Regions from separate parts of the Homo sapiens genome. Here regions 1, 2, 3, 4 and 5 are each linked to region 6. Evidence: fine-mapped expression QTL. A gene starts in region 6. Each other region holds a variant in brackets. All regions are shown on one strand. Distances are between the middles of the regions. Region 1 overlaps SDHAF2 (succinate dehydrogenase complex assembly factor 2). Region 2 overlaps CD5 (CD5 molecule). Region 3 overlaps DDB1 (damage specific DNA binding protein 1). Region 4 overlaps VWCE (von Willebrand factor C and EGF domains). Region 5 overlaps CPSF7 (cleavage and polyadenylation specific factor 7). Region 6 holds the start of SAXO4 (stabilizer of axonemal microtubules 4).

The links. PIP is the estimated chance that this variant, and not a neighbour inherited with it, causes the effect.
Region 1: its variant is fine-mapped to the expression of SAXO4 in whole blood (INTERVAL, PIP above 0.99).
Region 2: its variant is fine-mapped to the expression of SAXO4 in whole blood (INTERVAL, PIP above 0.99).
Region 3: its variant is fine-mapped to the expression of SAXO4 in whole blood (TOPMed, PIP above 0.99).
Region 4: its variant is fine-mapped to the expression of SAXO4 in whole blood (TOPMed, PIP above 0.99).
Region 5: its variant is fine-mapped to the expression of SAXO4 in whole blood (TOPMed, PIP above 0.99).

Annotation. Positions count from the first base shown.
Region 1 is chr11:61,442,963-61,448,049 of GRCh38, reverse strand. It overlaps SDHAF2 (succinate dehydrogenase complex assembly factor 2), which reads right to left. Exons shown (of 4, transcript NM_017841.4): 4 at 1,317-2,109. The coding sequence ends at 1,979. It also overlaps the pseudogene RN7SL23P. Among named protein-coding and RNA genes, the nearest start is that of SDHAF2, 15 kb to the right of the region's middle. RefSeq lists an enhancer at 961-1,708. The variant G/A (reference allele first, on the strand shown) is at 1,967.
Region 2 is chr11:61,103,970-61,109,056 of GRCh38, reverse strand. The region is part of intron 1 of CD5 (CD5 molecule); the gene reads right to left. Among named protein-coding and RNA genes, the nearest start is that of CD5, 4.0 kb to the right of the region's middle. The variant C/A (reference allele first, on the strand shown) is at 2,081.
Region 3 is chr11:61,301,905-61,306,904 of GRCh38, reverse strand. DDB1 (damage specific DNA binding protein 1) reads left to right here. Exons shown (of 27, transcript NM_001923.5): 22 at 2,870-3,040; 23 at 3,750-3,859; 24 at 4,154-4,323; 25 at 4,546-4,648. Among named protein-coding and RNA genes, the nearest start is that of VWCE, 9.1 kb to the right of the region's middle. The variant C/T (reference allele first, on the strand shown) is at 2,799.
Region 4 is chr11:61,262,991-61,268,077 of GRCh38, reverse strand. VWCE (von Willebrand factor C and EGF domains) reads left to right here. Exons shown (of 20, transcript NM_152718.2): 16 at 534-616; 17 at 2,866-2,956; 18 at 3,040-3,122; 19 at 3,501-3,591. Among named protein-coding and RNA genes, the nearest start is that of PGA5, 24 kb to the right of the region's middle. RefSeq lists an enhancer at 563-1,762. The variant C/T (reference allele first, on the strand shown) is at 2,122.
Region 5 is chr11:61,419,709-61,424,795 of GRCh38, reverse strand. It overlaps CPSF7 (cleavage and polyadenylation specific factor 7), which reads left to right. Exons shown (of 10, transcript NM_001142565.3): 3 at 3,188-3,406; 4 at 4,223-4,326; 5 at 4,702-4,847. Among named protein-coding and RNA genes, the nearest start is that of CPSF7, 7.7 kb to the left of the region's middle. The variant C/T (reference allele first, on the strand shown) is at 2,289.
Region 6 is chr11:61,478,747-61,483,833 of GRCh38, reverse strand. SAXO4 (stabilizer of axonemal microtubules 4) reads right to left here and starts at 2,714. Exons shown (of 14, transcript NM_145017.3): 1 at 2,618-2,714; 2 at 1,916-2,052; 3 at 1,406-1,523; 4 at 1,026-1,179. The coding sequence starts at 2,024. RefSeq lists an enhancer at 983-1,277.

The DNA.
Region 1 (5,087 bases), 36 kb after region 6:
GAGAGTGCTAGATTTTTCCATCAAAGGTCTTGTCACCAGGGTCTGTTTTCTCTCTCGTCTTCACTGGGAGGTAAGACATTCTGTGGTTCTATTAATAGGCTCAGCTTTCTGACCTGCAGATGAGAAACCCTGGATGTAGCTATGGTGACCTCATTGATATGCCAGGCAATTTGTGTTAGGGACAGGTTTTAAGTCTCAGACTGAGGCTATGACTAAATGCTGACATTCATATCTAGAGTACATACTGTGCAAGTTACCATGTAAGAGCTTTGTGTGTTTCATCTCATCAACTAGCTGAGACAGGAAGCATTGTCATCCCCATTTTATAGATGAGGCAACTGAGGCTCAGGTCAATTCATGTATCCAGCAGGTAAGCAGCAGAGCCAGGATTTAAATGTGTAACCAGTGCACTGCGCTGCTTCCTCACAGAAGCTTCACTGGGTGATCAAGTTCAGATCTACTCACTTGGCGAAGCACCTGGCAGATTCCTACCCACCATGTAACACAGAGGTCATGTCTCAGAACTGTCACATCTATTTGCCACAGCTTTCCCAAACAGAGACTTCTATTAAATTTCCAGCAGTAAGGCAGTGTGTTCTAGTAGAAAGTTCAAGAGCTTTGGAGGCAGACTGAGCTATACTAAATTCTGCTTTTTCGACTCAATAGCTACCTGACCTTGGACAAATTACTTCCTCTCTCTGAGCCCACTTTCTTATGTATAAAATACAGGTAACACCACTAGTCTAGAGTGCTGTGAGGCTTAACTGTGATTACGTAAAGGCTAGATCTCTTCCCTTCCCTCCTGAGCCACCAGGGATACTGAAGAGCAGGCAGGAACCATGAGGTGGCTCTGTAGGAACCCTGGAGCTCAACAATGCTGGAAACATGTGCGTGTGTAGTCCCTGTGTGCGGCTCCTATAATCACCAACCACCTGCTCATCAAATCTGGCCGACCTTCTTCTAGTCAACACCTTTAGATGCACCTGGTCCAGTCTGGGTGACTGATTCTACTGCCTAGATTACAGCTCTGAGGGCAAAACCCCTCCAGGGAGGGCACCACTAGCAACACAGAAGTCACACAGCCCTAGAGCTTTTAAAAACACTTCTAACTAATTCATTCTAATATATTATTTCTTATGTATTATTATTTAGTCAACTAATTGTGAAGACTGTAGGAATGAGGGGGAAAGTTTTCTATAGTGCTACATGAAAATAAAACCTGTAATTGTGAACTTGTAAAACTCTATAAACATGACTATGGGTTATATGAAAATAGACAAAATTAAAATTAATTGTGAGGGCTGGGAAATTGTAAATTTCCTTTTTTCAGTATGCTTTAATAATTCTCTTTCAAATTACAAAGTGCACGTTTTAAAGAAAGCCCAATGATGAAGATGTTGACTCCTAAGCAGTGTGCCCACACCACTCCTGCCTGTGGCCCTCATTCTGCCTGCTGTGCCTTTGAAGGATTCAGCTCAGGAGGCTGGGATCAGCTTCCCTTCGCAGAAGGAGCCATACCAGGTTGGAAGTGGGGAGTTCCACTTCAACAAAGCCCTGGGCCACTGAGGGCGGGGAGCTGCAGGGAGGGCGGGAGGCTTTCCATACAGCACGCACAGCTGGCTGCCTCTTTTCTTTGAGTACACTTGGGCTGAGGCAATGAGCAAGCACAACTGCTTCGCCTGCAGTGCCCTCTCGTGGCAGACTTGCCTCTAGAGATAGCAGCCAGGCAAAGCCTGCATGCCAGCGCTGCTGACAAATCACTTTTGAGGCTCAGAGCTGAACAAAAAAGTATGAGAATGAGTCACATTGTGCATTTACATGTATGTCCTAGGAGAGGGTTATGTCCATCACTTGAGGCAGGACCAGTGGTCTGGGGTAGGGCAGCTGGGCATCTAAGAAGCCGGAAGCAAGGCTAACGTCCATCATAAGTAGTTACCATCCACAGACTGAACCCCCATGCCAGGCC[G/A]TGGAGCACAGCTCAACGTGGCTTTTCAAAGAGGTACTCAAGATCTGGGGCACGCAGTCTCTGCTCTTTGTTTTTGTTTTTAGCAAAGTCTCTCAGCAGGGCCATGACTTCATTTTCAAATATTTCTGGGGCTGGTTTAGCTTCTGCAAGAGAAGAGTGGGCAGAAAAAATTATGCCATAGTCAGTCAATGCTCAGGTATGAGAATCTTAAAACTCGAAACACTGGCCAAGAACCACAGATGGATATATAGACTGTCTCCATCCTTCTTCTAAATATACACGATGTTAGCCTATACCAGGGGGTGGCAAACTGTGTGAGCCTATATTTGCAAGTCGTTTTATTGGAACAGCTGCTCCCAATGGTTTACATATTACCCATGCTCCTTTTGTGTTATGACAGCAGAATTGGGTACTTGCAACAGAGACCATATGACTACAAGTAAAATACTTACTATCTGGTCCTTTATGAACAAGTTTGCTGACCCCTGGCCCGCACAATCTTGGCTGTACTATTTTGCTTTGCATTTGGCAATTCCATTGTTCCCCAGACATTGTGTTTTCCCTTGCAATGTATATATCTCTTGAAACAAAAGCTCTCTCCTTTGTCTATCAGTTAGAGGTCCTCAGTTTTAAGAGACAGAAACTAATAACTCTAGTAAACTTAAGCAAAAAGGAATTTATTGGAAGGATATTGGAGGCACACAGAACTGTCATGAGCCTAAAGAACCAGATTTCAGTGAACGGGCAACATAGGCACTGAGTCAGAAGAATGAGAAGGCCAGCCTCAGTCTACGGCAGTGGGTCTGGCAGTGTGCTGCTCCCCCTGACCTTTCTCTACACCCTTGGGACACTTATTTAAGATGCCAATTACAAGCAAAGCCTCCCACTGCCAAAGCCGAGGCAATGTGCTCCAGAATTACCCTTCCACCAACACTAGGTACGACGCCAGGAGAGAGAATTCCTCAAAACCAAGTCAGATTCTCCCTTACTCAGCACAGGGCCTGGCATCTAGTGAGGGCTCTGTTTTCATGTGACAATCAACATAAGATCAAAGAGGTTTTGGCTTCCCCCAAGAAAGTAGAAAGTTGGAAAGAATATTGCACTCACTGTAACAACAAGAAAAAGCCAGATAAATTACAAATATTATGACTTTTCTCAAAGATATCAGAGAACTGAGGTCACGAGGCAACCCAACAGACGAAACCTAAGGAAAAAGAGGCCCTTCAAAGGAGAAACGAGAGCCATGCACTTGCTCACCTGTGGCAGGCACAGGAAGAAGAGACACTGGACATCATACAAATGGGTAAAAGGAATTCAGCTAAAAAAATTTTTTTTTTTGTTTGAGACGAGTCTCACTCTGTCGCCCAGGCTGGAGTGCAGTGGTGCGATCTGGACTCACTGCAAGCTCCACCTCCTGGGCTCACGCCATTCTCCCGCCTCAGCCTCCCGAGTAGCTGGCACCACAGGCGCCCGCCACCACGCTCGGCTGATTTTTTGTAATTTTTTTTTTTTTAGTAGAGATGGGGTTTCACTGTGTTAGTCAGGCTGGTCTTGGTCTCCTGACCTTGTGATCCGCCCACCTCTGCCTCCCAAAGTGCTGGGATCACAGGCGTGAGCCACCACGCCCAGCCAAAAAAATTTGTTTTAAATTAATACAGACAGGGCCAGCCTTATGTTGCCCAGGGGAGACTGCAGTGGCTAGTCAGAGGTGCAATTCCACCACTGATCAGCACAGGAATTTCGACCTGTCCCATTTCCAGCGTGGGCTGGTTCACCCCTCCTTAGGGAATCGGGTGGTCCCCTGCTTCTGAGAGGTCAACATACTGTTGCCAACTTTACAGCAGACACCTGATTGGTATAGAGCACTGCAGCCAAGAATTCCTGGGCTCCAGCGATCCTGCTGCCTCAGCCTCCAGGGCAGCTGGGACTGCAGGCCTGTGCCACTAAAATTTGCAATGAATTGTTAAAAGCCAAGTGTGGGCTAGCATGAGTGTATAAAACCACAGACACAGGCTGGGCACAGTGGCTCACGCCTGTAATCCCAGCACTTTGGGAGGCCGAGGCGGGTGGATCACGAGGTCAGGAGATCAAGACCATCCTGGCTAAAACGGTGAAACCCCGTCTCTACTGAAAATACAAAAAATTAGCCGGGCGTGGTGGCGGGCGCCTGTAGTCCCAGCTACTCGGGATGCTGAGGCAGCAGAATGGCATGAACCCAAGAGGCAGAGCTTGCAGTGAGCCGATATCGCGCCACTGCCTCCAGTCTGGGTGACAGAGTGAGACTCCGTCTCAAAAAAAAAAAAAATTAGCCAGGTGTGGTGGCACGTGATTGTAGTCTCAGCTACTCAGGAGGCTGAGGCAGGAGAATCGCTTGAACCTGGGAGGTGGAGGTTGCAGTGAGCCGAGAGGGTGCCACTGCACTCCAGCCTGGGCGACAGAGCCAGCTTCCACTCTAAGCACACGTTAACGCTAGACACTAGTAATGCAATGAAGGTAACCAAAGCAAAAACAACCCAAGCTGAGCTTACCTCCCAACTCACTGACTTGATCCCCACACTAACAGTAAAGTAGAAGAAGCATCCCCAATTGTAAGCATAAATACAATTATGAGAAAATTACGAGACATATACACAAAAGAAGAAAAAAACAACACACTGTCAAGGGACAAAGAAATCAACAGAAGCAGACTGAGGGATGACCCAGATGTTAGAACTATCAGACAGGGAATTTAAAATGACTATGACTAATATTAAAGGCGCCAGTGGAAAAAGCAGACAAAATGTATGAACAGATGAGAAATTCTAGCAGAGTTGGAAACTCCAAAAGTCAAATGGAAATGCTAAAAACAAATACAGTAGCAGATATGCAGAATGGTTTCAACAGGCCCATCATGAGATTTGACATCATCAAGGAAAGAATTAGTGGAAGACAGGTCAATAGATATTATCTAATACAAATAACCCAAACTGATGCACAAAGAGAAAAAAGAATAAAAAACACAAAACAGAGAACCCAAAAGCTGTTGGACAGACTGAGCACAGTGGCTCACGCCTGTAATCCCAACACTTTAAGGGACTGAGGCAGACGGATCACTTGAGGCCAGGAGTTCAAGCCCAGCCTG
Region 2 (5,087 bases), 370 kb after region 6:
ACCTGCACTCCTGGCCCCTGCCTCTGGCTCACTCCTAGGTCCTGCCGCCCCTGCACCCTGGGAAATGGAGGCAAGGGTGTGGCCTGCTTAGGGTTTGGCAGGCACCCGGATTCACAGGCCTGTGATAATGACCGATGATAATAAAATGACAGCATCCTTACCCTGTGCAGACCCCAGGACAAGGATTTTTCACAGAAGACCCCATTTCTTTCTAGAGCCTCAGAAGACGGGGTGCTATCACCACTTTGTTCCACAGATAAAACACCTATGACTGATTTAGTGTAGTTTGCAAGTCAGGTGTTCCCTTTTTCCCGTAAACAGTGATTCCTTCTAACAGTCCACAGACCTCCCCATAGCTACAGCCATCGATGTCCATGAAATACAATAGATCTGCCTGTGTTTTGGGTAGGATTCTGGATTTTCCTTCCTCGAATCCTATATGTTGGCTGACTTGAAAGGTCAGAAGCCCCTCTTTTCTGAAACGACAGTCATCTGTAGAGTTGGAGCTGTATCAGGGCTTTAGGGAAACGAAGGTCGTAAAGGACCAAAATTCCCTTTCTTGGGTTGAGCACAGATGAAATGATTGGTTTATGATTAGGCGGCTTTTATGTGCAAAACACATATAGAGTCACACTGGGCTTACACCAGGAGAGGCCTGGGAATGGAGCCCGCAGGAAGGAACAGCAGATTCAGGTCTCTAATCTGGCTCACCCAGGGCCTGTCCCAGTGAGCGGACAGTGGGTCGTGGGCAGAATGACCTTTGCTGTTTGAATTGTTATTTCTCTCTCCCACTAGTAGTCTGCTGTTGCATGAGTTTCGCACCATATACGGTGTCTCTGCTGTCACAGAGACAAGGCTTTGGTTTTGTTTAGAGCTTTACCTACCCCAAAGCTCTCTCATGCACTAGACTTGTTCTTTCTACCCACAGCCCTGTGAAGAAGGGACCATGCTCACCTCCATTTTCAGATCAGGAAACCGAGGTTCAGAGAGGCTGAGTGACTTGCCCAAGGTCACACAGCTAGCTGGTGGTAGAGTCAGGAGAGAAACCCTGTCTCCATCACCTGACAGGGCCTGTGGGAGTCTACCCCAGGGAGGCCCCAGAGCCTGCTTGCTCTGGAGTACAGATGGGGGAAACTGGGGCCAGAAGGAGGGAGGGGTTCATTCCAGATGTCTCTGTGGGAATCTGTGGCAGTGCATGGGACCCTTGTCGTCTCTGCAGACTGCCACCACCCATTTCCTACGCTATTCCTACCGTATCTGTCCCCCGGAGAGGAGTATTAGGGTCCCTCTGGACACCATGAAAGTCAGGCCTTGAAAGGTACATGATGGTGATGATGATGCTGGTCACGGTGATAGTGGTAGCTATAGAAGAAGTGATCCAGGCCCACAGTCTCTTATCTGCAATTCAAAATCCAGAATCTAAAAGTCTTGTTCTAATGCATTTGGTGGGAGGGTGTTTGCTGTCTTTACATCCCTCTAAGTGTGCAAATTCATGTTTCACTGCAGAAATGGGAATGTGTTGAACGCAGGGTGCTGCCCCAGGCCTCACTGCGTGTGTTAAGAGCACACAGTATGTACACAGTATTTCCTTCTACAATCTGAAAGCTTCTGGAGTTCCAAATGCATCTGGCCTGGGGTTCAAGATGCACTTGAGGACCTGGAGAGGTGAGAGTTATGCTCACCTCTCTGCTCCTGTGTGGCTGTCCAGTGCATGGGAGAAAAAGCCCAAGTCCTCACGGGGGCATCCGTGGCCCTCGTGGCTGCCTCATCGATCCCCCACTGACCTGCAGCTGGAGGCCCCTCTGCCTGCAACGCTTCTCCTCAGGTCCCACACGGTGGGCTCACTCCCTTCTTTCAAATATTGACTCAAATATCATCTTCTCATGAGAGCCGCTGAATCCTCCCCAGGTACCTCACACCCCACCAAGGCTTCCGGTCCCAGCCCTCCTCTATCTGTCTGTCTCCACACCTCTCATGACCGTCTAGTATTCGCATAATCACTAGCTTAGCTTGTGTCTTGTTTGTCTCCCCATCACACCCTGACTATTATGCCAGATCCACCAGGGCAGGGATTTTCCAC[C/A]GTTTTGTTCACTGCTGTGTCCTCAGCACTTAGAACAGCATCTGGCACATAGTAGGTGTTCAATCCATACCTAGTCTCTGAATAAACCCGATGTAATTATTGCAGTGATCTTTTGAGGTGGACACAGCAAGGAACCCCTATTTTTATAGATGAGACCCTGAGAGATGTTCACTTGTGGGTGGCCAAGCAGAAATCAAACTAGGTCTGCATTGCTCCAAAGCTCCCCTCCACAGGGCTGTGCACATATGTGTTCATACGCAAACACAGCACATGGACACACACACACACAGTAGATGTTCAATTTCACACACACACACAGAATAGATGTTCAATCAATTTTGTCAGGTTGAGCTGAATTCGCCGCCTGGTCACTGCAGGGAAAACCCCTCTGAACTGATGGTGACAGAGTGACCCAGGAAGGCCAGGTCCCTTCCTGGGCCCCCAGGTCCCTTCATTCCCTGCTGGAGGTGGGGAGCTCTGGGTCTTCGAGGAGGATGATCCAACCAGGGCCTCGCCCAGCCTGGGACAGTGGGCCTGCTGCCCTGCTCCCAGTAGGAGCCCCACCCTCTCAGGCCTGTCCTTCCCCCTTGCCTTTGCCCTGCCATCCGCTCTGCCTGGGACCCTCTTCCCTTTTTTCTCTGCCTGGCTGGCTCCGTCCCTCATTCAGGTCTCGGATTCTCAGATGAGACCTCGCCTCCTTAGAGAGGCCCTCCCTGCCTGCCCAGCCAAAGGGATGTCCTCCTATCCTAGTGCAGACTGTATTGTGCCTGAGGAACTTGCTGTTCTCCTCATTGCACTCAGTATTTCAAAATGTGTAAATATTTCGGGTGCCTTTTTTTTTTTTTTTTTTTTGAGATGGAGTCTTGCTCTGTTGCCCAGGCTGGAGTGCAATGGCGCGATCTCGGCTCACCGCAACCTCCGCCTCCCAGGTTCAAGCGGTTCTCCTGCCTCAGCCTCCTGAGTAGCTGGCATTACAGGTGCGTGCCACCACTCCCGGCTAATTTTTGTATTTTTAGTAGAGATGAGGTTTCACCATGTTGGCCAGGCTGGTCTTGAACTTCTGACCTCAGGTGATCCACCCGTCTTGGCCTCCCGAAGTGCTGGGATTACAGGCATGAGCCACCATGCCCGGTCTTTGGTGCTTGTTTACTTGTGTTCTCTAACAGCTCTCCTGTTAGCTGATCAAATCCTTGAGGGCAGGGACTCCTGCCTTGGTCCCTGTATCCCCAGTGTTTTGCACAGAGCTGGATGCACAGGAGATGCTCAATAATATTTGTAGATGAAAAATGAATGAATTAGTGAATAAATAGCCTGTGCAAGAGGATTGAGGGGTAGAGAGATTGACGGCTGTGCAGGCCTCTGGCAAGACCCTCCTCCCCATTGGCTCCTACCTCGCATTGTTTCTTGCTGACCCTGGTAATAATAATAATCATAGTTGTTGCTGTTATTATTGTTTATTGAGTACTTACTATACTATATGCCAGGATTGTACTTAAGCTCTGTGTGCATTGATTCATTGAATCCTTATAAGCCTCTATGAGGTACTGTTGCACCCAGTTTACGGATGAGAAAACTGAGGCTTACAGAACTAGTCCAAGGTCGCCCAGTTGGTAAGTGGCAGACTGGAATTCAAACTGCAGAGTCCATGACTTTCCCACGTCCCAGTGCTGGCTTTCAGAGTCGCATCGGCTAGGCCAGTCAGGGACGTGCAGTTTGTGTTAGAGCCGCTTCCCCGCCTCACTGCCAGCAGCTGTCCAGGCAGGCTGGGGCTGAGAGGGGAGCAACTGTGGGAAGCCCTGGCCTGTCACTAGCACCCAGGCCTGCTGGGGGCATCTTCATGCCTCAGGATCCAAAGGTCCCCAAGCCCCGATGCCAGCCAGGAGGCTGTGGTGTCCCCAGGGCTCTGGCATTGCTGCCTCTCTCCTTGGAATGGCTCAAAGGGTGCCTGCACTGTTTGACTCCAGCAACCCTGGCCCTTGGTGTCCCCAGCTCTGGTGGCTGTATCTCTGCTGGTGGAGGTTGTGTCCCAGGGCCATTTTCCTGCACACGGAAGTGCCTTTGGTGGCCTTCCCTTTTAGCTAAGGGAGGGGCCTCTGTGAAGGCAGGAATGCTGGGCTGGGGTCAGCTCGGCTGTGCACCAGCTGCTGCACCCTGGGTTTGCACTCGGCCTTCCTGGGCCTCGCTTTTCCCCACTGTAAAATGGGGCCAATGGGCCCACCTACTTCATTGGCTGTTGTGAAGCTTGCAGCAGAAAATGGCTTTAAAAGTGCTTTGTAAACCGTTACCCACTGAACAAAGGGAATGCTTGGTACCCACCGGCTCACTCAGACACTGGGAACTGAGTATTCCTGGGGTTCAAGGAGGTCCCCATACTGGGGTGAAGGGGCTACCTCCAAGTCTTCCTGACTGTGGCCTGTGTTGGGCCAGGGGACTTGCCTGGTGCCATCAGGAGCCTCACCCATGATGGGATTCAGTTGGGAGGGCCCTAGAGCAGGACACGGGTTCCCATACTCAGCTGGGAGCCGCCCTATCTCAATGAAGTCTGAGGCCAGAGGTGAGGAGCAGGTGGGGGGTTTAAGGGCCTGGTCCCTCCTTAGCAGGGTCCCTGAAGCCAGCCAGAGGTCTGTCTCAGGCCTCTTACTTTGGGACAGAAGGCATTTTGTACCTGTTGTTGTTACATGTGAGAAGAACCATGTGAACATGTGTGCACAGGTGCCATTGTCACATGTGTTGGGGAGATAATCCTGCCTTTGGAGGCCGCATTGTGCTCATGAAAGCACACACACACAGTTCTCACACACATGCGCACAGACTCCCACACACAGACTCACACACAGACTCACACACAGACTCACACATTCCCCCCACACAGTACTCACACACATGCCCAGAGACTCACACACAGACTCACACACAGACTCACACATTCCCCCATACACAGTTCTCACACACATGAACACAGACTCACACACAGACTCACACGCACAGACTCACACTTTCCCCCCCA
Region 3 (5,000 bases), 180 kb after region 6:
AAATGCATTATTTCTGAGAGGTTTAGGAACCCCCTTTCAGTTAGTCGTCTTGAATGTAAAAGAACAGTCATCCTGTTGGTTGGTTTTCCTTACCTGGAGTGGAAGATGAAAATTTAATACAAGTCGAGTTTTGTTAGGTGAGCATGAGAAAGGGGAGAGGGGTCAGGGCGTTGGAATCTGCAAGACAGTTATTATGTGATTATGGTGGTGGACTATGAGCATCTGAGAAGAGGCAGAGCGGAGGACACGAGATTCAGGAAGAGTGCAGTTACTTGTAATGCCAGGCTTTAAGAGGTGGTCATAAGAATGGACAAAGTAAGTGGGAAAGAAGGGGTCAGAAAAGCTAAGAGGTGAGGGTATTAGAAGGACCTTCTCTGTGAATATTATAGTCATCAAGACTTATAGGAGGTTGTGTGGGAGAGAGTGATGGGTGGGTTGGGGATTCAGGTGACTGCTTTAGTGGGTGATGGTGGTTGTGTGGTCTGGTGGTGTGAGCCTTAAAACTGTGGTGTTTCAGGGGAGGGAGTGACAAGTCTGAAAGAGCAGACGAGGAGCTTGGGAGACTGTGCTACCTCCTGTTCCAGTGCTATGAGGGACAGTGGAAGAGAAAACAGACAAGTTAAGAGGGCCACAAGGCCCTTAGGAAAGAGCCATGGATATGAGTTAGAATGAAGTGAAGGGTTTGCCCAGAGAAGTGGCTGTCCATGGTTAATGACTGTGTTCCAGAGGGTGCAGTGAGTGGGCACAGGGATCAGGAGGGTGGAGGGTGGCATTTGAGGTCAGGTGAGGACATATCTGTTCTGTTGCCAGCCAATAGAAATATTATATGAGCGATGTATGTCATTCTGAATTTTCTAGTAGCCACATTAACAAATGCAAAAAGAAGCAGGTGAAATGAATAAGGTATTTTATTTAACCCAATATCTAAAATATTAGCATTTCCACATGTAATCAGTATAAAAATGCTTATTAAGATATTTTACAGTTTTTCATACTAATAATTCAAAATCTGGTGTGTATTTTATAGTCAGAACACATCTCAACATGGACTAGGCACATTTCAAGTGTTTCATAGCCATGTGTGGCTAGTGACTACCATATTGGACAGTGGAAGTCTACAGCCTTTTGGGAAGAGAATGGGAGTCTTGGCCTTCTGGTGGTGTCTGGCTTTAGTCTTGACTCTCTCCAAGGCGATGGGGAGGTTGAGAGTGTGGAGAGAGAGTGGTGGCAGGTGTTGGCAGGAACATGTGGAGCTCTGAGGCCCCCCGCTTCACTCTTTCTGTTGGAGGTGTGGAGGCCCAGCAAGGTGGGCTTACCTGAAGACGGGGCACTCTGGAGGTACCTTTTACCCTGTGATAGAGGTGTGGTAACCATAGTATGTATGTATGTGTTTATTTATGAGATGGAGTCTCACTCTGTCGCCACGCTGGAGTGCAATGGCGCAGTCTTGGCTCACTGCAACCTCCGACTCCCTGGTTGAAGAGATTCTCCTGCCTCAGCCTCCCGAGTAGCTGGGATTACAGGCACACGTCACAATGCCCAGCTGATTTTTATATTTTTAGTAGAGATGGGGTTTCACCACGTTGGCCAGGATGGTCTCGATCTCCTGACCTCGTGATCCGCCTGCCTTGGCCTCCCAAAATGCTGGGATTACAGGCGTAAGCCACTGCGCCCCGCCAACCATTGTAATTATTACAAATGATTCTTGGAATATATTCCTGTGTAGCTAGGGTTCTTTGGACAAATCTTGAGAAATTGTGGTTTGATTAATATGTTCTGCCCAGGAGTTTCTAGATGTGCAGAGGCCATGGGGATTATCTGGATCCTGAAGGATCTGCCAGGGGAGGCTTGTCAGTTCAGATGGGTTGAGTCTGTCTTCTTTAGCACTGGGCCGTGCCAAGTAGCTCTCCATTTGTCTACTGATGATAAAGCATTTTCATTCTTTTGGAGATGTGGTTGTAATTGAAGAAGCACTGTGGTGGAGACAGAAAAAAGCAGTTTCTTTTTTTTTCCTTTTTTTTTTTTTTTAGGCGGAGTCTCACTCTGTCCCCCAGGCTGGAGTGCAGTGGCCCCATCTTGGCTCACTGCAAGCTCCGCCTCCCAGATTCGCACCATTCTCCTGCCTCAGCCTGCCGAGTAGCTGGGACTACAGGTGCCCGCCACCACGCTTGGCTAATTTTTTTTTTGTATTTTTAGTAGAGACGGGGTTTCACCGTGTTAGCCAGGATGGTCTCGTTCTCCTGACCTCATGATCTGCCCGTCTCGGCCTCCCAAAGTGCTGGGATTACAGGCGTGAGCCACTGCGGCCGGCTGCACAGTTTCTTTTTCCCTCTTGCGGGGTGGTAGAGGGTGGCTGTAGAATCAAGTTCTTCAGGTTCCTTTAGTTATTTGTCAATGTTTCTGTTGGACTTTTCTTTCTTTCTTTCTTTCTTTTTTTTGAGACAGAGTCTCGCTGTGTCGCCTAGGCTGGGATGCAGTGGCATGATCTCAGCTCAGCTCACTGCAACCTCTGTCTCCTGGGTTCATGCAATTCTTGTGCCACAACCTCCTGAGTAGCTGGGATTACAGGTGTGCGCCACCAAGCCCGACTACCCACATTACTGTTTCCTTTACGTGGACTCATTTTTTTATGTAAAGGAAAACTTGGGAAGTTTTGTATTCCTGGTTTGGTGTGTTCATTGTGTTTTCATATTTCATAAATATGTAATAGTGAAATAATAAATGTTCACCCCAGTGCCTCATAAAACCGTTTCCTGTCCCGCATTGCACTTTGAGAAGTAGTGCTGCAGATGAAGGGT[C/T]GAAGAGTTGGGGGGAGTCATTCTGAGAGAGCTCTGGCCCCTTTGGCTGAGAGAGACAATGCCCTTCCCAGGTGCGGCTCTATGAGTGGACAACAGAGAAGGAGCTGCGCACTGAGTGCAACCACTACAACAACATCATGGCCCTCTACCTGAAGACCAAGGGCGACTTCATCCTGGTGGGCGACCTTATGCGCTCAGTGCTGCTGCTTGCCTACAAGCCCATGGAAGGAAACTTTGAAGAGGTGATGCTGGTGGGGGGATGCGAGCAGACTTCTTGCTTGAGCCACCGCCCCTGCAAGTGTCTCTGGTGGGGAAGGATAAGCCAGCCCAGTATTAGGGGCAGAAATGTTTTCCCCGGAGCAGACATTCTACATTGATTAAGTTTTTTTTTTTTTTTTTTTTTTTTGAGACGCAGTCTGGCTCTGTCCAGGCTGAAGTGCGGTGGTGCGATCTCGGCTTACTGCAAGCTCTGCCTCCCAGGTTCACGCCATTCTCCTGCCTCAGTCTCCCAAGTAACTGGGACTACGAGTAGCTGGGACTACAGGCACCTGCCAACACGCCTGGCTAATTTTTGGTATTTTTAGTAGAGACGGGGTTTCACCTTGTTAGCCAGGATGGTCTCGATCTCCTGACCTCATAATCGGCCCGCCACGGCCTCCCAAAGTGCTGGGATTACAGGCGTGAGCCACTGTGCCCGGCCCTGATTAAGTATTTTTAGAGACTCCCAACTCAAACTCTGACTAGGCTCCATCTCTGGGCAGTTGGCAACCAAATGGGCTGCGTTGGCAGAGAGGTCGGGGAGAATCCCTCTAGGGTGACACTTGTTGAACACCATGCTATATCTTCTGCAGGGTGGGGCCTTGCTCCTGAATAAAGGAAACACAAGTCCCAGAACTGGATTCCGTGCAAACTGCTGATTATGCTTTCTTCTTTCACCTTGTCTGTTTTAAGATTGCTCGAGACTTTAATCCCAACTGGATGAGTGCTGTGGAAATCTTGGATGATGACAATTTTCTGGGGGCTGAAAATGCCTTTAACTTGTTTGTGTGTCAAAAGGATAGGTGAGTAGTGGCCAGCTCTGGGAGTGGTGGGGAGGGCTGGGAGTTCCTTGGTCTCTGGTGGATGCAAGCATTGGGTTCTGTGTCAGGTTCAGGTGCTCCTGTTTACAGAGATAGAACTTTCCTCGTCAGAGAATAAAAGGTGACAGAAATCCACCTCTTTAGACTGGCTCCCCTACTGTGGAGTATGTCAGCTCCCCAGGGAAATTGAGCACCGTGACCACTGCACGTGGTCCTGTCTCAGGGCCTGTGGTGGAAACAGGAGGTTCAGAAAGTGACTTTCTTACCGCCTTTCAGCGCTGCCACCACTGACGAGGAGCGGCAGCACCTCCAGGAGGTTGGTCTTTTCCACCTGGGCGAGTTTGTCAATGTCTTTTGCCACGGCTCTCTGGTAATGCAGAATCTGGGTGAGACTTCCACCCCCACACAAGGCTCGGTGCTCTTCGGCACGGTCAACGGCATGATAGGTAAGGTCACCCCTGTGGGGCACACCCCCACACAGGCCTCCTTCCTGATACCAGCATTCTGAGGGACTGGGGAGAGCAACTGTACAAGACCTAGGTGTTTACTAGAGGAGGCTGCAGCACATTAGCCCTCCCTGAGCTGCTCACCTGGGCTGCCCTTTACGTAGAGGATACATGCTGTGGGGTTGAGCTCTCTGCAGCTCACTGCCTCCTTCACTTCTTCAGGGCTGGTGACCTCACTGTCAGAGAGCTGGTACAACCTCCTGCTGGACATGCAGAATCGACTCAATAAAGTCATCAAAAGTGTGGGGAAGATCGAGCACTCCTTATATCCTTCCCAGAGCCATCCCCTTGCTGGGAAGCACATCCCGGCATATGTGGCACACGGAGTCACATTACCCGGAAGCTACTACATGTCTTGATTAGGTTCCTGTACAGAACAGGTTTTTTGTTTTGTTTTGTTTTTGACTTTTTCATGTGGAAAATTTCAAACATACACAATAGAACAGTATATTGACTCCCAAAGTACTTATCACCTAGCTTCCGCTGGTCCATCTTGGAAATGTACATTTATATTCCTGAAATGTGTCCGCCTCTGGCCCTCTCGGTGTAGCAGGCCAAATGTGAATTTAGATCACAACACAGGAGCACATCCTTTCAGGGATTTGGTTGAGGGCAAC
Region 4 (5,087 bases), 220 kb after region 6:
TTTTAAAGCTTCCCCTACTGTCTCATCACCTGCTTTTACACTTAGCAGTATATGATAGTATCATCCAAGGTGGCATCACTCACATCAGGCTTCTGGGGCTGTCAGGAATCAGAGAGGGGAGTAGTGTTGGGGAATGTTCTGGACAGGCGGGGTTGGTGGTTTGAGTGAGTTTGGAGGGCAGAGAGGAGGTTGGGAAGATGCTGTGGGGCCTCACACACACCTCGTATTTCCCAGTTCTTCCACCTGATCCCCCCTGGTGAGGAGGTAGAGGATGAATCTCCCCACTCTTCAGGGTGAGGACACTGAGGCCAAGACACTTGATCCTTTTGCTGAATCCAGTGGGAAAAAAGTCAATACCCGATTCAGACAATCCAAACAGGCGTTTTGTCCCTTCCCTAACTCCCAGGGTGACTGCCTGGGGAGGCACATGGCCTCCCCTTTGCCATCCAGATAAGCCTGTGACCTTGGCCCTGGCGGGAAGCCTGGTGCCTGGCCACTCCCAGCTGGTGCTCAGCGCATGCTCTCTCTGGCAGGCTGCACCTACACAGGCAGAATCTTCTATAACAACGAGACCTTCCCGTCTGTGCTGGACCCATGTCTGAGCTGCATCTGCCTGGTATGGACCACCCAGATCTGACTCCCGCCCCTGGAAACTCCCCCACAACTGACATCGGCTCCTGAATCCCAGAGGCAAAATCCAGAGACCTCCAAGACAAGGGATGCTTCTGGTTCATGGTGGAAGTCAGCTCCCTCCAGTCCTGCCCAGGGTGACCCTTTAGACAGGGCCAGAGAAATTTTTTTTGTTTGTTTTTGAGATGGAGCCTTGTTCTGTCACCCAGGCTCCCAGGTTGGAGTGCAGTGGTGTGATCTTGGCTCACTGCAACCTCCGCTTCCCGAGTTCAAGCGATTCTCCTGTGTCAGCCTCCCAAGTAGCTGGGACCACAGGCATGCACCACCACGCCTGGCTAATTTTTGTATTTTTGGTAGAGACGGGATTTCGCCATGTTGGCCAGGCCGTTCCTGAACTCCTGACCTCAGGTGATCTGCCCACCTCAGCCTCCCAAAGTGTTGGGATTACAGGCATGAGCCACTATGCCCAGCCCAGAGAAATATTTTTAAACCTGGCTGGCAAAGTCCTCTGCTTCCGGGTTACCCCCTAGAGAGAGTCTTAGGGATTCTTGATGAGGGTGGAGGTGAAACGCACAAACCCAGAATCCAGTACTGGAACCTTTTCAGTAGACCCATGTGGTCAAGCTCTTGCAGTGTGCCACGCCCTTCATAGGCATGCACTCAGCTAATCCATTCAAGAGTTTATCATCTCATTCTTCTGGATGAGAAAACCAAGGCACAGAGAGAGTCTTTGCTCAGATCCCGTAACTAGTTAATCAAAGTACTGAGAATGGAACCCTAGTATTGTGATTCTGAGATGCATATTTCTTCTCCTGGGTCATACTGCCTCTCAGTCTGAAAAAGCATGTCCCATAGTATCATTTAGTTTTTGGAAAATGAAAAAAAAATTGTTTTTTTTTTGAGACAGGGTGTTGCTCTGTCACCCAGGTTGAAGTGCAGTAGCGTGATCTTGGCTCACTGCAACCTTGACCTCCTGGGCTCAAGCGATCCTCCTATGTCAGCCTCCCAAGTAGGTGGGATCACACCCAGCTGGGATTACCACCACACCTGGCTAATTAAAAAATTCTTTTCATAGAGATGGGGTCGTGTTGTATTGCTCAGGCTGGTATGGAACTTCTGGGCTCAGGCAATCCTCGCACCTTGGCCTCCCAAGGTTTGGGGATTACAGGCATGAGCCACTGCACCCAGCCAAAAATTTTGTTTTTAGCTTTTTTAAAAATGTAGCTAAAAAATTTTACATAAAAAAATACTGAGACAGGATCTTGCTCTGTTGCCTAGGCTGGTCTTGAATTCCTGGCCTCAAGTGATCCTCCTACCTCAGCTTCCCAAAGTGCTGGATTATAGGTGTGAGCCACTATGCCTGGATGAAAAAAATAATTATTTTATTTTATTTTTTTTTTTTTGAGACAGAGTCTCACTCTGTCGCCAGGCTGGAGTGCAGTGGCACAATCTTGGCTCACTGCAACCTCCGCCTCCCAGGTTCAAACGATT[C/T]TCCCGTCTCAGCCTCCTGAGTAGCTGGGATTACAGGTGCGCACCACCACGCCCAGCTAATTTTTGTGCTTTTAGTAGAGTCGGAGTTTTGCCATGTTGGCCAGGCTGGTCTCGAACTCCTGACCTCAAATGATCCTCCTGCCTCAGCCTCCCAAAATGTTGGGATTACAGGTGTGAGCCACCACTCCGGGTAAAAAAATTCTTCATGCTTAGCATGCTGACGCCCTGAATGCGGGATGACGCTGCTTTGCTGGTGTGGGTGCAGATGCGGTATTTCTTTGGTGATCAGTGAGCCTCAGCAGAGTACATGCGTGACAAGGGACACGGTCTGCAGAAAGATTGAGAAACTCACGGTAAACAGCCCTGAGCTACTTACCCTGAGTGACCCACTGCACGTAGGCCCTAGTTGTTCTCAGCCTCGGGCTTTGGGGAACTTTGGCCCCTGGATCTTTCTCTATCGGGTTTTGGTGCTTATCTTTTCTGGGCAGTTTATGCAACAGGCACCCGTTAACAGATGCCCTCCGTGGACAAGTCCATGTTCTTACCTTCGAGGGGCTTGAATTCTAGTGGGAAGTTGGACCCCAACAGAGAAAATGCGCCCCCTGCCCCACTGCCCCACCATGGACTCCTCCCACAATGTTGATTGTTCTGATGGACACTCAGTGGCTATAGGAGCGGCATCTTCCTGAGTGTCTTGTCAGCTGCCCTGAACCGAGGGCCTTGTGTGTTTTCTGTGTCCTGCAGCTGGGCTCAGTGGCCTGTTCCCCCGTGGACTGCCCCATCACCTGTACCTACCCTTTCCACCCTGACGGGGAGTGCTGCCCCGTGTGCCGAGGTGAGTGGGACCAGCTGCCCCACGTGCCAGGTTCCCGGCCAGGCCTCGGCTCTCATGGGCTCCTGTCTCCCCTTCCTCCACAGACTGCAACTACGAGGGAAGGAAGGTGGCGAATGGCCAGGTGTTCACCTTGGATGATGAACCCTGCACCCGGTGCACGTGCCAGGTGAGCTGGGCCTGGGAACCCAGGAGCGGCCCCGCCAGAGGGCAGCTTCTTGCCTTTTGTCCCTTTGCAAAACATGGAGCCCTTTAGCCAGCATAAATCCATCCTCCTGCCATCCTCCGCCTTTAATTAACTGCCAGAATATCTTTGGTTTTGACCATCTCCTCCCTCTGTGGAAGTCCAGAGGGAGAAGTGGTTTCCCAAAGGGGGTCCTGCCATAGCTGGCTTTACCTGTTCTCCAGGCGAGGGCTCAGGCACTGCAGCCTCTGTCCTGGGATCTTTCCGTGGGTCCTGCTGCTGGTGCAAGAGGCCCTTGAGGGCACTGCCCAGGGCAGGCAAGATGCTCTGGGCTTCCTCATGGGGTTCCTTCTGCTTCCCCAGCTGGGAGAGGTGAGCTGTGAGAAGGTTCCCTGCCAGCGGGCCTGTGCCGACCCTGCCCTGCTTCCTGGGGACTGCTGCTCTTCCTGTCCAGGTAAGTGGGTCTCTGGGTCCTGGAGTTTCTCCGCCATCTTCTTCCATTTTACTTTTCTTCCCCGGTACATAGAACTTGTAAAGGGCTGGATAAGAGAAAGCCATGTTCAGAGAGGGAACACGGCTCGCGCAAGGTTGTACAGCTGTGCTGTGGCCTGCTGACCCTCATCCCGTGCTCATGATGCCACACACCATGATGTCTGTTTATTTGCACTCCCTTTTTCTTCTTCTTCTGCTTTTTTTTTTTTTTTTTTTTTTTTTTGAGACTGAGTCTCCCTCTGTCACCCAGGCTGGAGTGCAATGGCGCTATCTCACCTCACTGCAAGCTCCGCCTCCCGGGTTCACGCCATTCTCCTGCCTCAGCCTCCGGAGTAGCTGGGACTACAGGTGCCTGCCACTACGCCTGGCTAATTTTTTTGTATTTTTAGTAGAGATGGGGTTTCACCGTGTTAGCCAGGATGGTCTCGATCTCCTCACCTCGTGATCCGCCCGCCTCAGCCTCCCAAAGTGCTGGGATTACAGGCGTGAGCCACTGCGCCCGGCCTGCACTCCCTTTTTCTTCTTTATCCCCTTTCTTAACCTCTTCCTATGCTTTCTTCTTTATTTTAAATTACAACATGGGAACTGAGTCCGTTTTGCAGAAGAGTAATCTCTAATATGTGTTGAGCACCCACGGTGTGCCGGGACACCTCATGTGTCTACACCCCTGCAATACTCTTGTCATCCTCCTGTGCCAGGTGAGAAAACAGGCCCAGGCAGGTGAAGTGCTGTGCTCAAGATCACATAGCTGATTGGTAGTAGAGCCAGGGTTTCAGACTGGAGTCGATGCTTTTAGATAGGACAGTGGATTGATTCCCAAGAACTGACGCCACTGAACTCCAGCCTGGGCCACAGAGAGACACTGTCTCTAAACAACACAAAACACAACACAACACATATTTCTCCTGTCTAGCTGAGATTGTGTACCCTTTGACAATCATCTCCCCATTCCCCTCGCCCCTGCCAGCCTTCGTAACCACGATTCTATTCTCTGCTTCTTTGGCTTCAACCTTTTTAGATTCCACATAAAACTGAGATTTTGCAATAGTTGTCTTTGTGTGTCTGGCTTATTTCGCTTAGCATAATGTCCTCCAGTTTCATCCATGTTGTTGCAAATGACAGAATTTCCTTTTTTTTTTTTTTTTGAGGATTCTCACTCTGTCACCCAGGCTGGAGTGCAGTGGCGCGATCTCAGCTCACTGCAACCTTTGCCTCCCAGGTTCAAGTGGTTCTCTTGCCTCAGCCTCCTGAGTAGCTGGGATTATAGGCGCACACCACCATGCCCGGCTAATTTTTGTATTTTTAGTAGAGACAAGGTTTCGCCATGTTCGTCAGGCTGTTCTCGAACTTCTGACCTCAAGTGATCCACCCACCTCGGCCTCCCAAGGCACTGGGATTACAGGCGTGAGCCTGTAATTTCCTTCTTTTAAAAGGCTAAATAGTATTCCATTCTGGATA
Region 5 (5,087 bases), 59 kb after region 6:
TGTTTACGTGTCATTTGAAAATCCTTGATTTAAAAAAAAAGAAGGCTGGGTGCAGTGGCTTACGCCTGTAATCCCAGCACTTTGAGAGGCTGAGGTGGGAGGATCACCTGAGGTCCGGAGTTAGAGACCAGCCTGGCCAACATGGTGAAACCCCATCTCTACTAAAAATACAAAAATTAGCTGGGTGTGGTGGTGCACACCTGTAATTCCAGCTGCTCGGGAGGCTGAGGCAGGAGAATCACTTGAACCCAGGAGGCGGAGGTTGCAGTGAGCCAAGATTGCGCCACTGCACTTCAACCTGGGTGACAAAGTGAGACTCTATCTCAGAAAAAAAGAAGAATCTTGGTGTGAAGTAGTGCTTTCTAAGGATTTGAGCATTGGATGGGATCAAGTGATGTATATAAATCCTTTCTCTACCTTGAACCACAGGAGCAACTCACCATACCTGGTACATGAATAGAAGAGTGATTTGTCTATAGAGTTGGGATAGTTTGAGACGTAACAGCTATGAAATATTTTATAGTGATTACTTACACACAAAATGTTTTCCCACTCATTAGCCCTAGCTGACCTCACCTTACTTTATTATCCACCCTGTCCTCTCCAGTGTTAGCTTCTCTCCTCATTCTTTACATGCTGACCCTTTTTATGCACAATCCTTTTTGATGGATTTGACTACATGGAACAAGCTTCCTGTGCTTATTTGCCTCACTAATTTCTTGTTGTTAAGTTGCCCCCTAAAAGTTTACTGTCTCTTGATATTCTTTTTCTAACGTTTTTACAAGGGTTAAGCCCTCCTGGTGGGTTTCTTAGAGTGTTTTAATATTTGAAATTATTTATATGCTTTAGGAAGTAGAATCCTTCCCCCTTCTCTATCAGAACAACCCAAGATTATTCTCTTAGTGTGCATTTTCTTCCACTGTACTTCAGATAAACTGAAAAACTGAAAGATTGTTTCCAAAGGTTCTTATAATACAAGGACTGGTCTAAGAGTAAATTTTTTAGTGAGTCGTCTTCAGATCACTTCAGAATTAGCAGTTATTGCCGTGATATTGGAGGGAGAAAGTTAAGGGAGCCGCCTGTCTTTAGTTGCCTTGGAGAAACTGTTTCTTCAGGGTACTAGACAAGTTTCCCAACTTAGGTGCCTCCTTTATTCCCTTTTTAAAAGAATAGCAATATGAAACTGCCGTAGCATCCTTAAAACACTGAACTACTTGCTGTCTCTGTCATTTTGGCAGCATTATCTTTAGCATTGTTTGAATGTTTTGTCTAATTCTTGTAATAAAAATAAAATGCTTGTCTAATCCTTAAAAAGATTTCTCTGAGGCTAGGCACGGTGGCTCACGCCTGTAATCCTAGCACTTTGGGAGGCCGAGGTGGGCAGATCACGAGATGAAGGGTTTGAGACCAGCCTGACCAACATGGTGAAACCCCATCTCTACTAAAAATACAAAAATTAGCTGGGCATGGTGGTGTGTGCCTGTAATCCCAGCTACTCAGGAGGCTGAGGCAGGAGAATCACTTGAACCCAAGAGGCAGAGGTTGCAGTGAGCTGAGATGGCGCCACTGCACTCCAGCCTGGGCAATGGAGCAAGACTGTGTCTCAAAAAAAAAAAAAAAAAAAAAGATTTCTCTGAGGTAATTACATTGTAGAATCCTGAACCCTTTTTTTTTTTTTTTTTTTTTTTTTGATATGGGGTCTCACTCTGTTGCCCAGGCTGGCTCACTGCAACCTCAACCTCCCGGGCTCGAGTGATCCTTCTGCCTCTCGAGTAGCTGGGACTATAGATGTGTGCCACCATGCCCAACTAATTTTTGTATTTATTGTAGAGATAGGGTTTCACCATGTTGCCCAGGCTGGTCTGAAACTCTTGGGCTCAAGCAGTTTGCCTATCTCTGCGTCCTAAAGTGCTGGGATACAAGGCGTGAGCCACTGCACCCAGCCTGTAAAATCCTAAACATTAAGGTCCTGTATCGTAGTAGTAGTAGTTGTAGTTTTAGGGGTTTTGGTATATAGTAAGTAAGATATCACATAGGCAGAATATGTATTTTGCACATTTTCCATAATACATATTCATATTGTAAATGCTTACTGTGTGATACAGTTTATGTTCTTGTCCTGTTTTCTGGCCCTTATATTTTAGAGAACTTTAACTGTTTTTTGTATATCATTGAATATTGGCTGGGCATGGTAGTCACCCCTGTAATCCCGGCACTTTGGGAGGCCGAGGCCAGTGGATCACTTGAGTCCAGGAGTTCCAGACTAGCCTGGGCAACATGGTGAAACC[C/T]TGTCTCTACAAAAAAAATTTGAAAATTAGCTGGGCATGGTTGCGCATGTCTGTAGTCCCCAGTTACTTGGGAGACTGAAGTGGGAGGATCACATGAGCCCAGGAGGTTGAAGCTGCAGTGAGTTGTAATTGCACCACTGCCCTCCAGCCTGGGTGACAAAGTGAGACCCTGTCTCAAAAAAAAAAAAAAGTCTCCTAGATACATGTCATGGTAATGCATTGGGCCTGTATGTCATTTAAGAAATAGAACTTAGTAGGGGAAAACCCCTGTTGTTATTCCCTTCCCTTTTATTTATTTTTTATTTTCTCCGATGGAAAGATGGGATTGTGTACAATGAGTTTAGAGCTTTCCTAAATCATTTATACCAATCAAGGGATTTAAATCAGTAACTCCCAATCTTTTCTGCATTTTTGTACCCACTTTCATGCTTTTCCTCTGCATTCTGTTTCTAAATAAATTTATTATTAAATAGACAAGTGAATTTTATGTAACACTTGATTTTGGAAATAGCATAAGATACTGAAAATAAGTTTTCATTAGCTTATCTTAGATGTGGTCTTTAGAAGCTGACCTTATTGATAACAGCAGCCCATGCATCTCATTATGCATTCTTTCTTTGCTTGCTTAATCACCCAGTGCTTTTTGATTCTTGCCGTTGGCTAAAGCCAGAAACTTTACAGACTATTAACAGAATCTTGAGGGGAAAAAAATGTACATAAGCATAATTAAGTGATACAGTTTCAAAAGGAGGTTTTTCTTACTTTGTTTCCTGGGGTAGGACAAGGAAGTTTTGTACATGTTTTACCAAGTATTTAACTGGATTCTAATAAACTAGAGTGAAATAGAATGAACAAAATGAAGTTTGCAGACCTACCTTTGCCAACCCCTCATCTCTTAGGACCCAGAGTTCAACAATACAGATCAGATTGACCTGTATGATGATGTGCTGACAGCCACCTCACAGCCCTCAGATGACAGAAGCAGCAGCACTGAACCACCTCCTCCTGTTCGCCAGGAGCCATCTCCCAAGCCCAACAACAAGACCCCTGCAATTCTGTATACCTACAGTGGCCTGCGTAATAGACGAGCTGCCGTTTATGTGGGCAGCTTCTCCTGGGTGAGTGTGGGTAACCAAAAATGCTTAGGGGTGGGCTGGAGGGAGAGCACTGGGAGGTGATGGCATTTTCAGAAACTACTGTTGCACTGTTTTGTGCTCTGATGGGGTTGGATTTCTTTTTCCTGGGATCAGGTTGGATTGATCTCTGAAAGAGAACTATCCTGAGGACGTACTGGTGCCGAAGAAAGCAATGATTAAGTGGGTAGTTGCTTTTTCTGCCATCTTGTTACTGCCCCTGACCCTGGGGCTTTATGTCTAGCAGGGTCATCTGAGGGACGAGATTTCAGAGTGAACACCTTGAACTCTTGGTGGTCATTAGATGGTCCTGTGATAATGGTGGGTGATGGGGATTAAAGACCTTGATAACTCTAGTATACTTGGGGTAGGTGGTGACTGTTGTTCTGCAAGTTATTTTGTGATGTTTTGGGGCTGGTGGTGGGGGTGGTTTTTCCAAATTAGGAAGTATATTTACTGTGGGGGAAGTTCTGGCAATGGTCAACTCTAGCCTGACAGATCTATAATTAAAAAATTGCTAGCTGTCAATGTTTGAACTGATGACCAGCCAGCCCAAACGGCAGTCAAAGTTACAATAAGTTTTAATCTTCGTAATCTCTAAAGATGGAGATTGGGGGTGAGTGGGTTTGGAATTCTGTATGGGTGAGGACAATAAGAAAAGTCTGCACTAATTGAAATATTGCCAGGCTTTTGAGTTTCCTCTGGGGGGACTTAGTTGTGACTAGAATCCTGGGTTTGGGACATTGGCGGGCGGGGGTGTAGCTCTTGACATCTCTTCCTTTTCCATCTTGCCGGCCCCAGTGGACCACAGACCAGCAGCTGATCCAGGTTATTCGCTCTATAGGAGTCTATGATGTGGTGGAGTTGAAATTTGCAGAGAATCGAGCAAATGGCCAGTCCAAAGGGTGAGGTCTGGATTTGAGAAGCCCCTTTTAATTTGTAACCATTGGGATAAAAGATCTGTACTATATTTTGGCCCTGGATTTTAATCACTCCCACCCCTGGCCCAGCTTACTGCCTTGGTTTTGGCAAACTGCCTTAGAAAGGGACCTAGCTGCAGTGTAGTAGAATATCCATCTGTTAAGGGGCGAAGAATACTGATTTTTAATTCCAAAAAAATAAAGATTTAGGCTGTCTCTTTGTTGTTAGTGCTGTATGTGTGTTTAGTTTAGCAAGATGTCCTTTGCTTTATCAATTTTTACTAAAAGTGGAAGAGAATTTCTTTTTTCTTCTCTTGGCTGTCTACAGATTTCATTCATTTTTAATTTTTCTTTCCTAAGGTATGCTGAGGTGGTGGTAGCCTCTGAAAACTCTGTCCACAAATTGTTGGAACTCCTACCAGGGAAAGTTCTTAATGGAGAAAAAGTGGACGTGAGGCCGGCCACCCGGCAGAACCTGTCACAGTTTGAGGCACAGGCTCGGAAACGTGAGTGTGTCCGAGTCCCAAGAGGGGGTACGTGGAGACCATCTGTATGAGGGGGGGGTGTTTGTGGGTTTGTTTTCTATGGTGTAGGCTTAGCCTACAGTGTGGGTGAGTTTGGGGGAGGGTGATGGTGGTTGTGAGTGGTGTCATGGTCGACAAGTAGTCCTCAGAATAGGTCTATATAGAAGAAAGAGCATTGTGCTGGGAGTCAAGTAGGTTCAGGTTGTAGTTTGGTTCTGCCAC
Region 6 (5,087 bases):
GGTGCGTGCCACCATGCCCAGCTAGTTTTTGTATTTTTAGTAGAGATGGAGTTTCACCATGTTGGCCAGACTGGTCTCAAACTCCTGACCTCAAGTGATCTGCCTGCTTCAGCTTCCCAAAGTGCTGGGATTACAGGTGTGAGCCATCGCACCTGGCCTCCAACTCCTTCACTTCTCTTCCTCCCTGCTTCTCCCTGTTGTATTTCCTAACCCCCGCCCCACCCCGCACTCCACCCGCTCTTATCATCTTCAAATATGAAGGAGATATTCAGAACATTCTCGCTGGATGAATGAATGAGTGTCCATTTTGGTGGTGGTGCTGATGATAAGAAGGGTGGTAATAATGAGGATAGAAATGAAAAAGATGGGGCTGGGCGCAGTGGCTCACGCCTGTAATCCCAGCACTTTGGGAGGCTGAGGCGGGCAGATCACGAGGTCAGGAGATTGAGACTATCCTGGCTAACACGGTGAAACCCTGTCTGTACTAAAAATACAAAATATTAGCCGGGTGTGGTGGCACATGCCTGTAATCCCAGCTACTGGGGAGGCTGAGGCAGGAGAATCGCTTGAACCCAGGAGGTGGAGGTTGCAGTGAGCCGAGATCGTGCCACTGCACTCCAGCCTGGGCAACAGAGTGAGACTCCATCTCAAAAAAAAAAAAAAAAAAAAGAAAAAGAAATGAAAAAGATGGGGTGAGGATGTCCATGGTGGGGGGACAGTGGTGGTAGTAGGGACAGTGATGGGGCTTGCAGGTGTGGACGGGAGTGTGAGGCTCATGGGAATGGGGACAGGGATGGGGATGGAAATGGAGGTGGAGGTAATGGTGGGGCTGGGGCAGGGAATAGAGGTGGTGGGGATGGTGGGGACAAGGATGAGGACAAAGGGGAGAAAGATGAGTGGACCCCATCCCTACAAGGTGGCTGCTCCATGCCCTGTCACCTCCACCTTGACCAACTGTTGGCAGTGCAGCCCTAGCCCCACCCCACCCTGAGGCTTCCCTCTCCTGGCCCTGGCCCAGCACTGACCTCCTTGGTGGGGGGACCCGCACTGGGCTTCTCCCGCCCATAGCCTGAGCTGGTCTGGCGCATGCTCCAGGGCAGGGGATGCTTGCCGTCAGGCACCTCCAGGGGGCGGTAGCTCTGGCTGGCCACAGACTGGAAATGGTCCTGGGCTTGTTCCCTGAGGGTGAGGAGGAGCTAGAACCCCAGGCCGCCTGCCTCTGTCCTCTGCTAAGGAGCTTCCCTCCTCCCTGCACCCTCCCACAGATGGCTCAGAGGTCCGCTGTGCCCTGAGTCACCCAGGACCCCCAGCCTAGGGCAGGCAAAGCTCAGGGTCCCCATCCAAGGAACCTGGAGTTGGTCTGATGAGCAGGGCAGGGGCTGGGAAGGGGCCATACAGACCGTACCCCCTGGCCGGGTTGTCTAAGGCCTCCAGACTGGCTTGGCATGAGACCACGGGCTGGAAATTTGATTTGTAGCCGGTGCCTACGTGACTGCCCACACGGGGCTTGAAATCCTCCCGACCTGCCAGAGGGGTAACGGGGAGACAGACCCCAAGGTCAAAAACAGGCAGGGCTTCCCAGGCAGGGCCAGCGTCCTCCGAGGGGCACAGGGGTCACAGTGACAGGGGAGGGCTCAGAGCCACGGGCAGGAGCTTTGCAAGCCTGCCCTTTCAGGACTGTGATGGCAGGAAATGGAGTGGGTGGGCTGGGGACAAGGTCAGTGTGGCAGAATCACAGTGACAGAATTGCAGGGACAGAACCAGAGAAGGGAGCAGCCGGGCAGGGCCCAGGGGACAAACGGATTCAGCAGTTGCTCTGCAGTGTGACAGCCAGAGGGTCTGCTCCTCCCTCAGAGAGAGCCCCTCCCTTCCTGCCCATGTCCTAGCAGAGGCTCCTGCGCAAAGGCACCCTCACCGTAGGCGGTGCAGTAGCTGGTGGCGTAGAATTTCAGGGGGTCCGTGTAGCCCCCCGAACTCATCTTCACATAAGGGGAGACGACCCCCAGGGGGAGTTTCCCCATCATGATGCTGTGGGGCAGGGCCCCAGGGGGCCTAGAAAGGAAGCACGGGGAGCCTCATGGGTCCCAAGCCTGGCTCGGAAGCCCACAGGGGCGAAGATCTGCCCCCCACCACCCACAACGCAGCTGGCCCCTTCTCCCAGGCCTCTGTCTCTCTGCCCCAGCTCCCAAGTCCCTAAACTAAGGACGAAACCGATCATCCACACTTATCCCAAGAGTCCTCATGTCTCCTCTCACTTTCCCACACCTTCTTATTAACTCTTCCTGTCCCCATTTACCACTGGGACAGTGAGGTTCCAAGTGATAAAGGATTTGCTCCATAATAGGTGGTAGTGCTGGGATTCAGACCTAGGTGTTTGACTACTCGGCCCCTGACCTGAACCTTACATACCCACCTCTCGGAATGAATGAGCCGACAACCCACTACCTGGGGAATTCTTGGCCCCCACCCAAGAAGTCAGGCCGAGGCGCTCACTCCCAGCCCCCGGCTCCTCTCTCTCCCTCATCTCCATGGCCTTGCCCGCCTCTGGCCTTGCCTGCCTCCCCTGGGAATTGGCTGCACTCTCCCCGAGGCCCAACCACAGCGGCCCCACCCTCACCTTTCCTCTGCAGAGGCTCTGAGGTCGGGGAGAGGCTGCAGGAAGCAGAGCTCTGCAGAGAAGCCAGCCCTCCTGGAGGAGGCCAAGCAGGAGAAACAATGTGTAGCCTAGCAACTGGTGCCTAGCAACAGCGTCCCCAGGCTTCTGAGACCTTCTAGGGCCAGGGCCCACTGAGGGGCTGACCTGGCCAGGAGGGGAGGGTCAGAAGCTGCCCGAGCAAGGCCCTGCTTCCAGGGCTCCGGCCCCAACCTCCGGCCTCCTCCACAGGGCTGGGAAGAGTTGCTGTCTGCGTGACATAAAATAAAAGATAATCCCGAACACTCACTCCCATAAAGTACCCACTTCTCGGCAGATACTTTACATCCTCTATCTCCATCCTCTGAGCAGCTCTTCAGTAGCTATGATTATCCCCATTTTCACTGGGGGAACATGAGGCTTAGATAAGCAAAATGACTTGACTCCAGAGATCTCGCAATCAGAAAATAGCCAAGTTGAGATTCAAACGTGGGTGGATGTGGATCCCGCTCTTCTGCCTCTCGGTAAATCAACATTTACTATGTTCCTCTGGAGCTGAATCTGTGCTAAGCCCTTTAACACACATTACGTCGTGTAATCCCCCAAACCACCCTGTGAACTGGGCACTATTATTGTAGGGCCAATAAACCGCAGCAGTTAAGAGTGTGGTTCAAATCTGATCTGTCACCTTTGATGAGGTACTTATCCTCTTCACGCCCCCAAATCCCCATCTTCGCAAGGGACGTGACTGCACCCACCTCACAGGGCTGCTGGCAGATTTAGCAAGAGCATGGATTCAGCACCTGACAGGTAGTAAATGCTCTTTTTTTTTTTTAAGAGAGACAGGATCTTATGCTCTCACCTGGGTTGGAGTACAGAGGTACCATCATAGCTCAGTCCAGCCTCCAACTCCTAAGTTCAAGCAATCCTCTTGCCTCAGACTCTCAAGTAGCCAGAACTACAGGTGTGCTCCCCCCTGCCTGACTTGCTTATTTATGTATTTATTTGTTGTAGAGACAGCGTCTTGCTATGTTGCTCAGGCTGGTCTTGAACTCCTGGCCTCAAGTGATCCTCCTGCCTCAGCCTCCTGAGTTGCTGGGATTGCAGGGGCAAGCCACCACACTCGGCAAATGCTCAATTTGCAAAAGCTGCTGTACTTTTAGTCTTATTTTGCAGATAGGAAAGGCGAGGCTCAAGGGGAAATAGCCCAGGCCCCACAGTGGGTGGAGACGGAGCCTGGACTCAAATCTGAGTGCGCAAACTCCACAGTGAGAATCTTCTTCCATGACAGCCTTTTTGCCTCAAATTGGCTTTCAGGCTTGTAAATGTTGTAACAGTTAGATCTCTGGGTGGGGTGGGATAGCCCTACTTTGCAGCATTTGCCAATTTCTGTGATGTCAGTGGTCCCATCAGGGCTGCTTTCAAACCACCACTACAGTGTCTTTGAACCGGGACATGGGAAGGTCGCTCACCACTGTACGGGAGTAGTCCCATCATGCAGACATAATGGGCGTAAGTAACCTCGACAGCACAAATAATAGAAAAATGTACTCACATAATTAAGGGGTGATGAGTTTTAGGTATTTTTTTTTGTTTTTAATATAATTCATTAAATTGCAGGTTTAAGTTATTTATTTATTTATTTATTTATTTATTTATTTATTTATTTATTTGAGATGGAGTCTTGCTCTGTCCCCCAGGCTGGAGTGCAGTGGCACGATCTCAGCTCACTGCAACCTCCATCTCCTGGTTCAAGCAATTCTCCTGCCTCAGCCTCCTGAGTAGCTGGGATTACAGGTGCACGCCACCACGCCCAGCTAATTTTTGTATTTTTAGTAGAGATGGGGTTTCACTATGTTGGCCAGGTTGGTCTCGACCTCCTGAGCTCAAGTGATCTGCCTGCCTCAGCCTCCCAAAGTGCTGGGATTACAGGCGTCAGCCACCGCGCTCGGCCAGTAATTTAATTTTTAACAATGGCAGAGTTAAAAACCAGCTTGCCAATTTCCTGGAAGTTTCGCCTTCAGCTCTCCTGAGCCGGTAGAGCTGGCTTCAGAGCACCCCTGCTCTCAGGGGAGAGTGAGGTATGAATGAAGGCTGAATAAAGGGAAAGGAGGCATCTCCTTTCCTCACCCAGGAGATGCCCTTGCCGCATTCATCCTGTAGTGACCTGGCCTGCCAGGGTGGAGGCTCACTCGTGTCCTCACCCAGCCCCCCATGGGAAGGCAAGCTGAAGCACGTTTGGCACCCACCCTCCGGACTAACGATTCTGTTCAGGGATCACAGGGCACAAGGACACAGGAGTGAGTGCACACAGCCCTGCCCTCCAGCAAAGTGCTCCCATTCTACTACAGAGGCTCGTGGGAGTTCCACACACGAAGCACAAAGGGTGAGACCACCATAGGTGAGGTGCTCACAGGGTGAAGGGAGAGAGGGGCCCTCCTCTAAGTGTGCCTGG